Linked DNA regions of Homo sapiens. The protein of the gene in region 2 purifies or fractionates together with the protein of the main gene of each other region. This does not show direct contact. Each region holds a gene or a part of one and is shown on either strand. Other genes may lie near its edges.

The links.
Region 1: the proteins of WDR4 (region 2) and XPNPEP1 purify together in Homo sapiens (affinity purification with mass spectrometry; 2 studies listed by BioGRID and IntAct, with this or other methods). This does not show direct contact.

Annotation. Positions count from the first base shown.
Region 1 is NC_000010.11:109,884,821-109,889,928, reverse strand, and holds part of XPNPEP1 (xaa-Pro aminopeptidase 1), read left to right. Parts: intron 1-1,333; coding exon 1,334-1,426; intron 1,427-1,736; coding exon 1,737-1,880; intron 1,881-3,587; coding exon 3,588-3,683; intron 3,684-5,108. UniProt on the Homo sapiens protein: Metalloaminopeptidase that catalyzes the removal of a penultimate prolyl residue from the N-termini of peptides, such as Arg-Pro-Pro. Contributes to the degradation of bradykinin.
Region 2 is NC_000021.9:42,851,436-42,856,450, forward strand, and holds part of WDR4 (tRNA (guanine-N(7)-)-methyltransferase non-catalytic subunit WDR4), read right to left. Parts: intron 4,346-5,015; coding exon 4,247-4,345; intron 3,192-4,246; coding exon 3,127-3,191; intron 2,318-3,126; coding exon 2,134-2,317; intron 890-2,133; coding exon 820-889; intron 1-819. UniProt on the Homo sapiens protein: Non-catalytic component of the METTL1-WDR4 methyltransferase complex required for the formation of N(7)-methylguanine in a subset of RNA species, such as tRNAs, mRNAs and microRNAs (miRNAs).

The DNA of each region.
Region 1 (5,108 bases), on a different chromosome or scaffold from region 2:
AAAATAGGAAAGAATCAAATAGCAGAATGAAACTCAATGTCAGCTTCTAGGCAGTTTTTTAGAATTGGAATTCATGAGCTTCTTTCTTTATAAACCTTTGCACTTCCCTTCTATGGTTATGTGGTTGTATCAGTAGTCAGTAGAGAAAATAGTAAAGATAAGTTTCTACTGTTTTAGAATATGTGAACTTTTACTCTAAATATATGTATATTTTATCAAGATGTTAATTGTTTGGCCAAAACCTCATTGGTTAAAAAAAGTATACATTTCAAAGATAACTGGCTAGATATGGAAGGTGTTGGCTTAGATTAAAGGAAAACTGGACTATAGAAGTAATTTTAGTTCTATTCTGGAGGCTGATATAGTGTCCTATGACTAGCGTCTTAGAAACAGAAAGGGCTGTCTCATCCTGGGAGTTGGGGAACCCAGAGGCTCATGTTAAAGGCAACAGGATGGCCAGCACTTTGGGAGGCTGAGGTGGGAGGATCACTTGAGGCCAGGAGTTCAAGACCAACCTGGCTAACATGGTGAAACCCCGTCTTTACTAAAAATACAGAATTAACTGGGCATGGTAATTTTGAGCCTGTAATCCCAGCTACTTGGGAGGCTGAGGCAGGAGAATTGCTTGAATCCAGGTGGTGGAGGTTGCAGTGAGCTGAGATGGTGCCACCGCACTCTAGCCTGCATAACAGAGTGAGACTCTGTCTTCAGAAGTAAATAAATAAATAAAGACAACCGGACAGGTGCCTGTGTGCCTCTCTTAAAATCTTCGGAAAGATCTCTTTGCTGCCAAGACTTGTGCTTAGCCCTCTATTCAGAGGCTGGTTATGGGGCAGCGGCCTTCTCTTGGCCACCCTGCCCTTGCAGATGAGGGGCGGGCACTGGGAGCATGTTATCACCTTACCTGGTATGTGATATGTGGGAGTCTCCCAGTTCCCAGACTTCACCAAATCACTGCCCAAATTCTCATCAAGTGACCAGTAGTGGGGAAGTGACTGAACGCTGAGGAGACAATCTTTGTGGTGACGCCATGTGTGTACGTGGCAGTGATCCCCAAGATATTTTTACAAGGGGTCAAGTGAAAAATCATACTTTTTTCCCTTCTGTCTCACCCTTGTCTTATGTTTTTCATACACAAAAACTTACACTTCTCCCTCTCTGTAGCCTTCCAGGATTAAGGGAGGTTCAGATTTTCTAAGTCCTGTCAATCCACTTTAAAGAAGCTGCTTAATAAAGACCCTGCTATCATGATGTTAGAGAATTGTATCTTTCTGGTGGGATAATGAGCGTGGGCCCACTGGGAATTGTTTCTTATCATTTCTTCCCCCTGTAGGTCTGAAGGACACACCAACTCAGGAAGACTGGCTGGTGAGTGTGCTTCCTGAAGGATCCAGGGTTGGTGTGGACCCCTTGATCATTCCTACAGGTAAGTGAGCTTGGTCCCTTTCTGCTTGGGTAAGGAAGTGGCTTCTAGATTCCCCTCCATTCTCCTCATTTGCTTGTGGGGTGTGGAGCACTGGGGGGCTCAGCATGACTGATTTTATAGTAGAGGTCAGGGTGAAGAGAAGAGTTCCACTGGTGGTGAAGATGTGCTTTTACAGTTCCTCATCCTGCACACCCAGCTCTGGGCCATGGCAGGACCACCTTTCTGAAGGTTCTGGACTTTCAAGGCCCTGCTCCCTGCCCTGCTGCAATGGGCGTTCGGCTCATGGCTGGGCCACAATGTGTCTCCTCAGATTATTGGAAGAAAATGGCCAAAGTTCTGAGAAGTGCCGGCCATCACCTCATTCCTGTCAAGGAGAACCTCGTTGACAAAATCTGGACAGACCGTCCTGAGCGCCCTTGCAAGCCTCTCCTCACACTGGGCCTGGATTACACAGGTCAGAATCAATGGTTCTGCCCAGCAGGGCCCCTGCCATTGTCCCCCCACCTCTTGCTATTGTCTCCAGCCTCGTCCTCCGAATCCAAGTCGAGTTGGAGCTGACAGGAGGATTTTGCCCTACTCTGCCCCAGTGGGATATTTGAAGAAGCAGGAGCTTTGTTTGTTTCCACTGTTGCCACCTACTTGCCACTTAGTTTGGCTTTGGTTATTTTCGCAAAGCTCGTTTGGGTGGCTTTTTGGGTGCTGCTGAAAAGACTGAGTTTTTTTTATCCACTCAGCTGCTAACTGCCACTCGAACGTATTTGATATTGGAAATAGAGCATAGAGGTTTCTAGGTTCCATTTCCCTTCTTATGTCAGCATTTGTAGATTTACCTTCCTAGGCCTTTGTCCTCCATCTTGTACCTTCTGCTTTAGAGGCTTTGGGGTGTGGGTGTGTTTCCTTGGCCTGTGCGATAGTGATGGGTAAGCAGCATGTTCTCTGAACCATTGTGTGGATTTATGAAGCAGTGAGGGGGCAGAGAGAGAGGCCTGGAGGTGGGGCTGCAGGGGAGGGCGTCTTGCTGTAGAAACAGAGGTAGATGGGGGATGGCTGTGGAATGTAGGCAGATTGCCCAGAGGGGTCCTGGGAAGAAAGCGTGACAGCCTAGATTCTGGGCCAAGTTTTAAACAGCATTCCCGAACTGATCTTCAGTGCAGCCCTGGGTGTGGGGGCAGCCCCAGCCTGCTTTCTTGTGTGACATCCTCACCAGAGGGGTATTGCGGAATGGGGAGGATGGGTCCAGTGAGTGGCCCAGGGTCAGCTAAATATTTTCCATCAGCGTGGTTTGAAGTTTTTTTCACTAGAGCAGAAGCTCTGACTTGTTGCTTATAGGAGAGGGGAGAGCAAATGTTGCTGTTCAGTACACATTTGGGTGCCTACTATCTGCAGGATGCTGTGCGAGGTGCTGAGTGAATAAGACAGATGCCCACCCTGCTCACAGGTGGCTGTTCCCTGAGTTATGAATGCTGCCCTGGTAGGGTGGTTGTGGTGGCAATGGGGTGAGCTCCTCTAGCACCACGATTTCATCTTGCAGAGCAACAGAGAGGCCTTGGCAGTGTCTGAAAGGGCAAGTGTGATTTGGAAGTGGTAATCACAGTGAGTCAGACTACAGGGAATTCCTAGGTCTTAGCACTGAAAGGCAAGTCTTGCAGCCCCCAGGAACATCAAGTGGTGGGTGCTGTTCCCCTGACCCCTGAGACTGGGTGAGTTCCCTTTGCTGGGTAGTGTGTTGATATAGGTCCCTGTGTGTCCCCTGTTGCATCAGTATTTACAGTAGTGTGTTAATTGCTGGTTTAATTATCTGTCTTCCCTTCTATATTGTAAGCCCCATGAAGACAGGGACTGGGTCTGGCTCAGATCTGTAACCACAGTGACCAGCAGAGTGCCTGGCACGTATCTATGCCTGGCAGATCTAGATGTTACACAGGCATTTGTGGGATGCGTAAATGAATGAATTTTACTGGTGAGGCAATCAAGGCTCACGACAGTCAAGTGGCTTGGACACTTCTTGTATAGGGCTTGAATCCAGGCCTCCTGCCTGTTTAAGTAGCGTGCTCCTGTAAGAAATGGTGCTGATTAAAGATGTTTAGGGTAGGTTCTTTCACTGGGTTCCTACTGCTTTCTGGGACCAGGGCTGGAGTTAAAGCACATTTGTTTCTTGCAGGCATCTCCTGGAAGGACAAGGTTGCAGACCTTCGGTTGAAAATGGCTGAGAGGAACGTCATGTGGTTTGTGGTCACTGCCTTGGATGAGATTGCGTGTGAGTGCTCTGGTTTCGCTGTTTGGGCATGTTACCCGATCTCTCCTTTGGGTCTCTGGGTATCTGTGTGTTCATGCCATTCAACTTTCTGAGTGGCCAGGGAATAAGAAGAAGACTACGTCACCAAATGGGTATAGGAGATGCCAACTAGGATGAAGGAGAAAGAATTACAGGGAGCTGGGGAGGGGAGTGAGGCTTGTCCAGAGCAGTATTACAGCTGGGTGATGCCCACCTCTGGCCAGTCCCTCAGGACCATGGCACCTCTGAGGAAGGGCATTTCCTACAAATATTTTATGTCTGTCAGCCTCTGTAGGTGTAGAAGTGGGCTCATAGGAGAGGCCTTCTTTCTTTACACTTGTCCTGTGGTTTCCTAAGGTCTTTATAGTGAGAATGTTCTGGGAGCATTTCTACCTCAGAAAACTAGGAACTAAAAGTTCCTCCCCAAGCCCTTTGATGTAATAGTAGTTTCTCAGTCTTTGGACCTTAACCCACCTTCATGCAGTTGTTCAGCACCTTCTTTCATCTAAAACCTGACGGAATCTGGTTGAACCTTCCTGTCCTGTCTTCTGGTTTCTGAGTGGATTTGACCCAGGGCAACTGAGAAGAGGCACTGCTTTATCTTTTTGCCTTCTCACTAGAGAATGAGACCCTACTGCAGTGTCCTCTCTCTTCAGTCCCTGCATCTTCCATCCACAAAACATTGTCAAGTGTGTCAGTGACTTACATCCCTAATTAACTTAATGATCTCAACGTCAGAGAAAAACACCTGTAAAACTTTTCTCTCTCCCTGATTGTAACAAAAACACAATCCCATGATAGAAAACTTGGAAAATGCAGAGGAAGTAAAAAGAAGAAAAAAAAAATCACGTATAAATTCTGTTACTTAGAGATAATCAGTGTCAATATTCTATGCATATATCATTTTATAGCCTGATTTTTTCACTGTATCAGTACACTATAAGCATATACAAGCATAATTTTAAGTGAGTATTAAATACTCCATCATGTGGTTATACCATAATTTATTTAACTGTTTCCCTAAGGATGACCTTTGGGTTATTTGCAGTAATCCTGTAATTTATTATGATGCTACCATCAAAATCTTGGTTCATGAATCCATGTCTTAGTGTTTGATAATTTTCTTCCTATTTCTGGTTGGCTTTTAGGGCTTTTGACTCATCTTGCCCTTTGTCTGCCAGAAAGTTTGCACCTTTGTATTTGAATTTGTCTGTCTTGCCACACCTGAACACCAGGTACTGTCATTTTTAAAGAAGTGCTAGTATGATAGGTAAAAAATGGTGCCTCATCACTTTAAGAAGCCATTATTTTAAAATAGAGGTTATACTTTTAATGCCCAGGCGTTTTTTTGCTCTGATCCTCATGAGAACAAGTGACGGAAGCTGGAAGTCCTGGGACCAGAACTGT
Region 2 (5,015 bases):
CTCCTCCGACCTCAGTGTGAATCCCTCCAGAGCTCCAAGGAACCTCAGTGCTCACTGCAGTGGGGTTTAGCTTTGCAAGACTTCAGAGCAGCAACTTCTTGTCGTGAATGAGGCACCTGGATTCCATGCTGGGCTAATCCATCCTGCAGACACCATCACCTCCAAGACTGCAAGGTGCTGGCACAACGACGCACCCAGAACTACAGTGTGTCGTGTCCCCAGAAGGCAGGGTAGAAAATGTTCGTCCAGCTCCTCCCTCAGCCTGGCTGCTCTCCTTCCTGCAGCCGCAGCCACGGGAGTTGCTGGCTAGATTCCCTCCCCTCAGCTGAGTGTTCCTGTCAGGACAGTGACCATCCTGCCCCTGCTCAGCCTCCTGAAGACCCCCGGGGCCTCTGGCTAGACCCCCACTAAACCTCCCAGTGAGGCCCTGCACTTACTGACGCCCACTGCAGTGGGATCAATTCCCTCAACACCATGGACCAGGCATGAGGCAGCACAGCACCAGCTCCCTCTGGGAGCCACCAGCTGCCAGCCCTGCCCTGGGGACCTTCAACGCCCAACTCTGAAGGCAGGTGCTCAGACCCTGAGCCCCCGGTTCCTAAGTGGCTCTCGTTAGCCTGACTCCCATGGGGGGCTCCTTCTTCTGCTGTGCGTCACCCACCTCCTGCCCTGCCCCGCCTTCTGGATGGGGACACACGCTTACTCTCCCTCTTTATCTGCACACCAGGTACCCCGGGCAGGTCACAGTGTGTGCTTCTGCTTTCTCTGGGGACCGCGCTGGGTGTGACCCCCAAGGGCAGCCTGCACCCGTGCTCTCACCTTCCAGCATGGCCCAGTTCCCACGAAGAACACCAGAGACTTTCTTTAACACGGTGCTCTCAGGAACAGACTGCAGGCGACAAACAGGAAATCTTCATCAGAAAGAGGCAGGCCTGGAAACCCAGCACCAGGACGCAACACATGCTGGCCAGAGAGGCTTGCAGGGGAGGTCCCCTCCTGGTGCCTGGGGACCCCCATTCACCTTCTGTGGAGACCTGGGGAGGCAGCCCCCGCAGCTGGCCCATGATGCCAGGGCAAGCTCTTCACATGCAGTTCATCAACCTCAGGGGCCAGCAGGTGCGACAGGCACCCACTGGGGACATCATGTGGCCTGCCACTTCTCAGGTAAAAAGAACTGGATGGCTTAAAAGTGCTTCCAGGTCAGGCGCAGTGGCTCATACCTGTAATCCCAGCACTTTGGGAGGCCAAGGCGGGCGGATCACCTGAGGGTGGGAGTTCAAGACCAGCCTGACCAACATGGAGAAACCCCGTCTCTACTAAAAATACAAAATTAGCCGGGTGTGGTGGCGCATGCCTGTAATCCCAGCTACTCGGGAGGCTGAGGCAGGAGAATCACTTGAACCCGGGAGGCGGAGGTCGCGGTGAGCCGAGATAGCGCCATTGTACTCCAGCCTGGGCAACACGAGCAAAACTCCGTCTCAAAAAAAAAAAAAAAGTGCTTCCAAAGTGCTCAACTGAGCTTTGGCAAATGGGTACCTACTCCACTCAACTCCACAGCAACCCTGTGAGACGCAGGGCGGGCAGGGGCATTGCTCCGTTACCAGGAGCGATGCAGACAAGGTACAGGGTTCGCCCCGTCCCCCAGCAAGGAAGCAGCTCGGCCCGCCGCCCTCGCCCAGAGACCCCACTGTCTCCCCAGAGGAAAGCAGCTCAGCCTGCCGCCCTTGCCCCCTCCTCTACCCGGGGCTCCACATGCTCCTGAGGACTCAGCCAGTGCCCCAGGCCCGAGGCTGTGCTAATCCAGCCTCCAAGTGTTAGTCCCACACACCCTTGCCACACTGAGTGCCAACTTCATCGCTAAGTGTGGTGTGGGGGGCCACACACTCACCCAAAAAAAGAACTGTTGCAGACATCACCACATGGGACAAGCCAGCCACGCCGGCCTGGCACCCGGCTCCCTTCACCCACGGTGGAAGCCCCAGCCACTGCCATTCAGGACACAGACCCTGGGCCCCAGAAGTGGCTGAGTTGAAAGAGGCTTACCCATGGACCCAAAAAACATAGCTGCCGCCCCACACCCCCAGGCTTATGGAAAGGCAGGGCATAGGACATCTGGAAGGTGCCGAGTCTCACCTGCCACTGGTCGCCCACAGGCCTGTAGAGCACCAGGGGGGCTTCCTGGCAGTCCTGGAGCACCCACAGCCCCTGGGTCTCCTCGAAAGCCACGTCCCACACTTGGTGCTGGAACGCCAGCTGCTGCCTGTACACCAACTGCTGTCTGCGGGCGTCCAGCTGGAAGATGTAGACCACAGGAGTGCTTGCCACGAAGAAAGAGAGCATGATTACTAGGACTGCAGGCCCACGGGCTCCGCTCTGCAGCCAGCACCCCAGACGGTGCAGCCCTCGCCGGTGCCACCTCAGGAGAGCCTACGCTGAAAGCCCCAGCTGCGCCACTCCCAAATGCCGGCGCCGGGGAAACCATGGGGTGACGTACACTTTTTTAAGTCCTAAGCTCTGGAGTGGCTCGTGGTGCAGCAATAGCTAACCAGCACGGTACAGGCAGGCAGGGCAGGAGGACGCAGGCCCTGGGCTCAGGCGCAGCTCTCCTCTCACACCTGCGTACTTCCAGAACGAGCTAAGAGACCTCCCCAGGCTGTCATAAGGACAAGATGAAAAGTGCCGAAAGCACCAAATAGAATACCTTTCCTGACACACACAAGTCACTCGGGAAGAAGCAGCAGAACTGCACTCCACCCCTAAACCCACCTTGTCAGCACCGCCAACCCCAGGGGGTTCCCATCCGACCAGCCCCGAGCCGGGAGTGAGGTGATGCCACCACGACTGGCCCAGGGGAAAGTCTGTCATCTCAGAAGGCCAGGCAGAGGCTGCTGGTGCTCTTTACGCCAGGGGAGTTCAACGTCAGGTTGAAGAGCGCTGGCTGAGAGGAGCCCTCACCCTCATGCAGCAGCAGTCATCAAAAGTGACATTCTCAGAGGGAGGTGCTAGACCAATACCACCACCGTTCAGGACCTCTTCATTGAGGACGTGGGCCAGTGGCCAACCCGCTAACTCTTCCCCCTGCAGGTCTGCAGAACCGGAGGCCATAGAGGTGCCGCCGCAGCTTACCCGTCGCACAGGAGCGCCACGCAGTTCTCCTGGCACCAGAATGCAATCCTGGACGCGGCAAACTTCTAAAAGGAGAAGAAGCCCATTAACTTCACGCCACCTGCAGGGGCCCGACGCCGGGCGCTCTGATCCAACAAGAGCAAGACCGAAGGACGCTCACGCCCCCACATATCAAGGAAGAGGAAACAGCACTGGAACATTCTGGAATCAGTGGGGAAAGGAGGGTAGCTGATTCCCTGTTTCCCAAGCAGATGACAAAAGCCCCCCAGTGGTTCTGGCACTCCCTGCAGGGCCTGCGACAGCCTCCAAAGCCAACAAGATAGGTCAGACAGTGAGGAGAAGAGGGAGCGGAGGACACAGGGGAAAGGAAGAGATGAGAGCTACACATACAACTGCCCTGTGAGCTCCCACAGTTCCTGGCAGAGGAAATATTAAAAATGAAGAAGAGGCCGTGCACAGTGGCTCACGCCTTTAATCCCAGCTACTCAGGAGCCTGAGGCGGAGGTTGCTGTGAGTCGAGATAGCACCACTGCACTCCAGCCTGGGCAAGAGTGGGACTCCATCTCAAAAAAAAAAAAAAAATTTTTTTTAAATGAAGGAAACTTCCAGGAACCTGAGTCCACGTGAAGCATGAAGGAAAAGGCCTGGTCCTCTCTTACACAGCTGCCTGGCAGGGGGCAGAGGCCACACCACACAGTTCTCTAGGAAATGGAACAGACCGTTTGGCGGGAAACTTTGCCAAGGCCTGGGCTTTCAGGGTGTCATGAGATTGCTCCAAGCTGGCCGGAGAATGCTGGAGTGGGCCTGGCCCCACCCCTGCCCCACCTGGCTGGCAGACCCACAAAGGTGCATGCTCAAGCACCTCCATTCCTTCCACTTCAGAGCAGGATTAGAGGCCTTCCTGTACATTAACTGTTTGCATGCAACAGGGAGACAAATTATTTCCCACTGACATGACGAGCCACCTTCAGAATTTGAAATACGAGATTTCCCTCACACAGGAGGAAGTCTGGCATTGAGAGCAAACGTTTCCAACGGCGAAGTGACTTTTCCACTCAAGTCAGGCGACTGCCGGTGTCTACAAGCACTCAGTCGCCCAGGAGTGAACAGAAGCAGCTACCTGGGGGGCCTGGGGGTCCACCAGCTCCTGCAGACTGGCCAGGTGACAGCAGTGCAGCTGGCGGCCGCTCCTGTACTCCCAGAGCCTCAGGGTGCCGTCCTGCACAAACCAAACACACAGGTTAGCACATGGTTGTGGGGCTTCCGTCAGGTAGGGTGACAGAGAGGACAGCTGCGTGTGGTCGGGGTTCCACTCCGTGACAGCCATGCCACCCACCCTCAGGAATTAAAGGCTCTCTGCTCTGACTGTGTAAATCGCTCATGCAAATCATCAAGGACAACGGTGGGGAACGGAAGGTGACCGATTCCCTGTTTCTCGAGTGCCAATATGCCCAGGCAGATGACAAAGCCAATGAGGCAGATCCTAGCAAAATAAGCCAAGGCCGCTAGATGGCCAGGTTGTCATCCGCCAGGAGGCCAGACCACATCTGCTGTGCCCGGGCCGGGCATAGACACGGGCATGCACACAGGTCTGCGCAGACACTTCAGCAATCATGCATTCCCACGGGGAGACACGTGTGGGCTCATGAGCTCGTGGCCACTGCTCCACTTCACTAAGAATGACAGGAAGGACATGGCCATCAGCAACCGTCCCACGACAACTGGTACAACCCTTCAGGAAGCCGACACAGGAACCAAGAGGCTCCACGCTCTAAAACCATCATCAATGGAAAAAAGCGTTTCTCTTTTTTTTCTTGGTTTTATCTGTTGTTATTTTTTTGTTGTTTAATTGAAATGGGGTCTATTCCACACTGCCCACTGCACTGCAG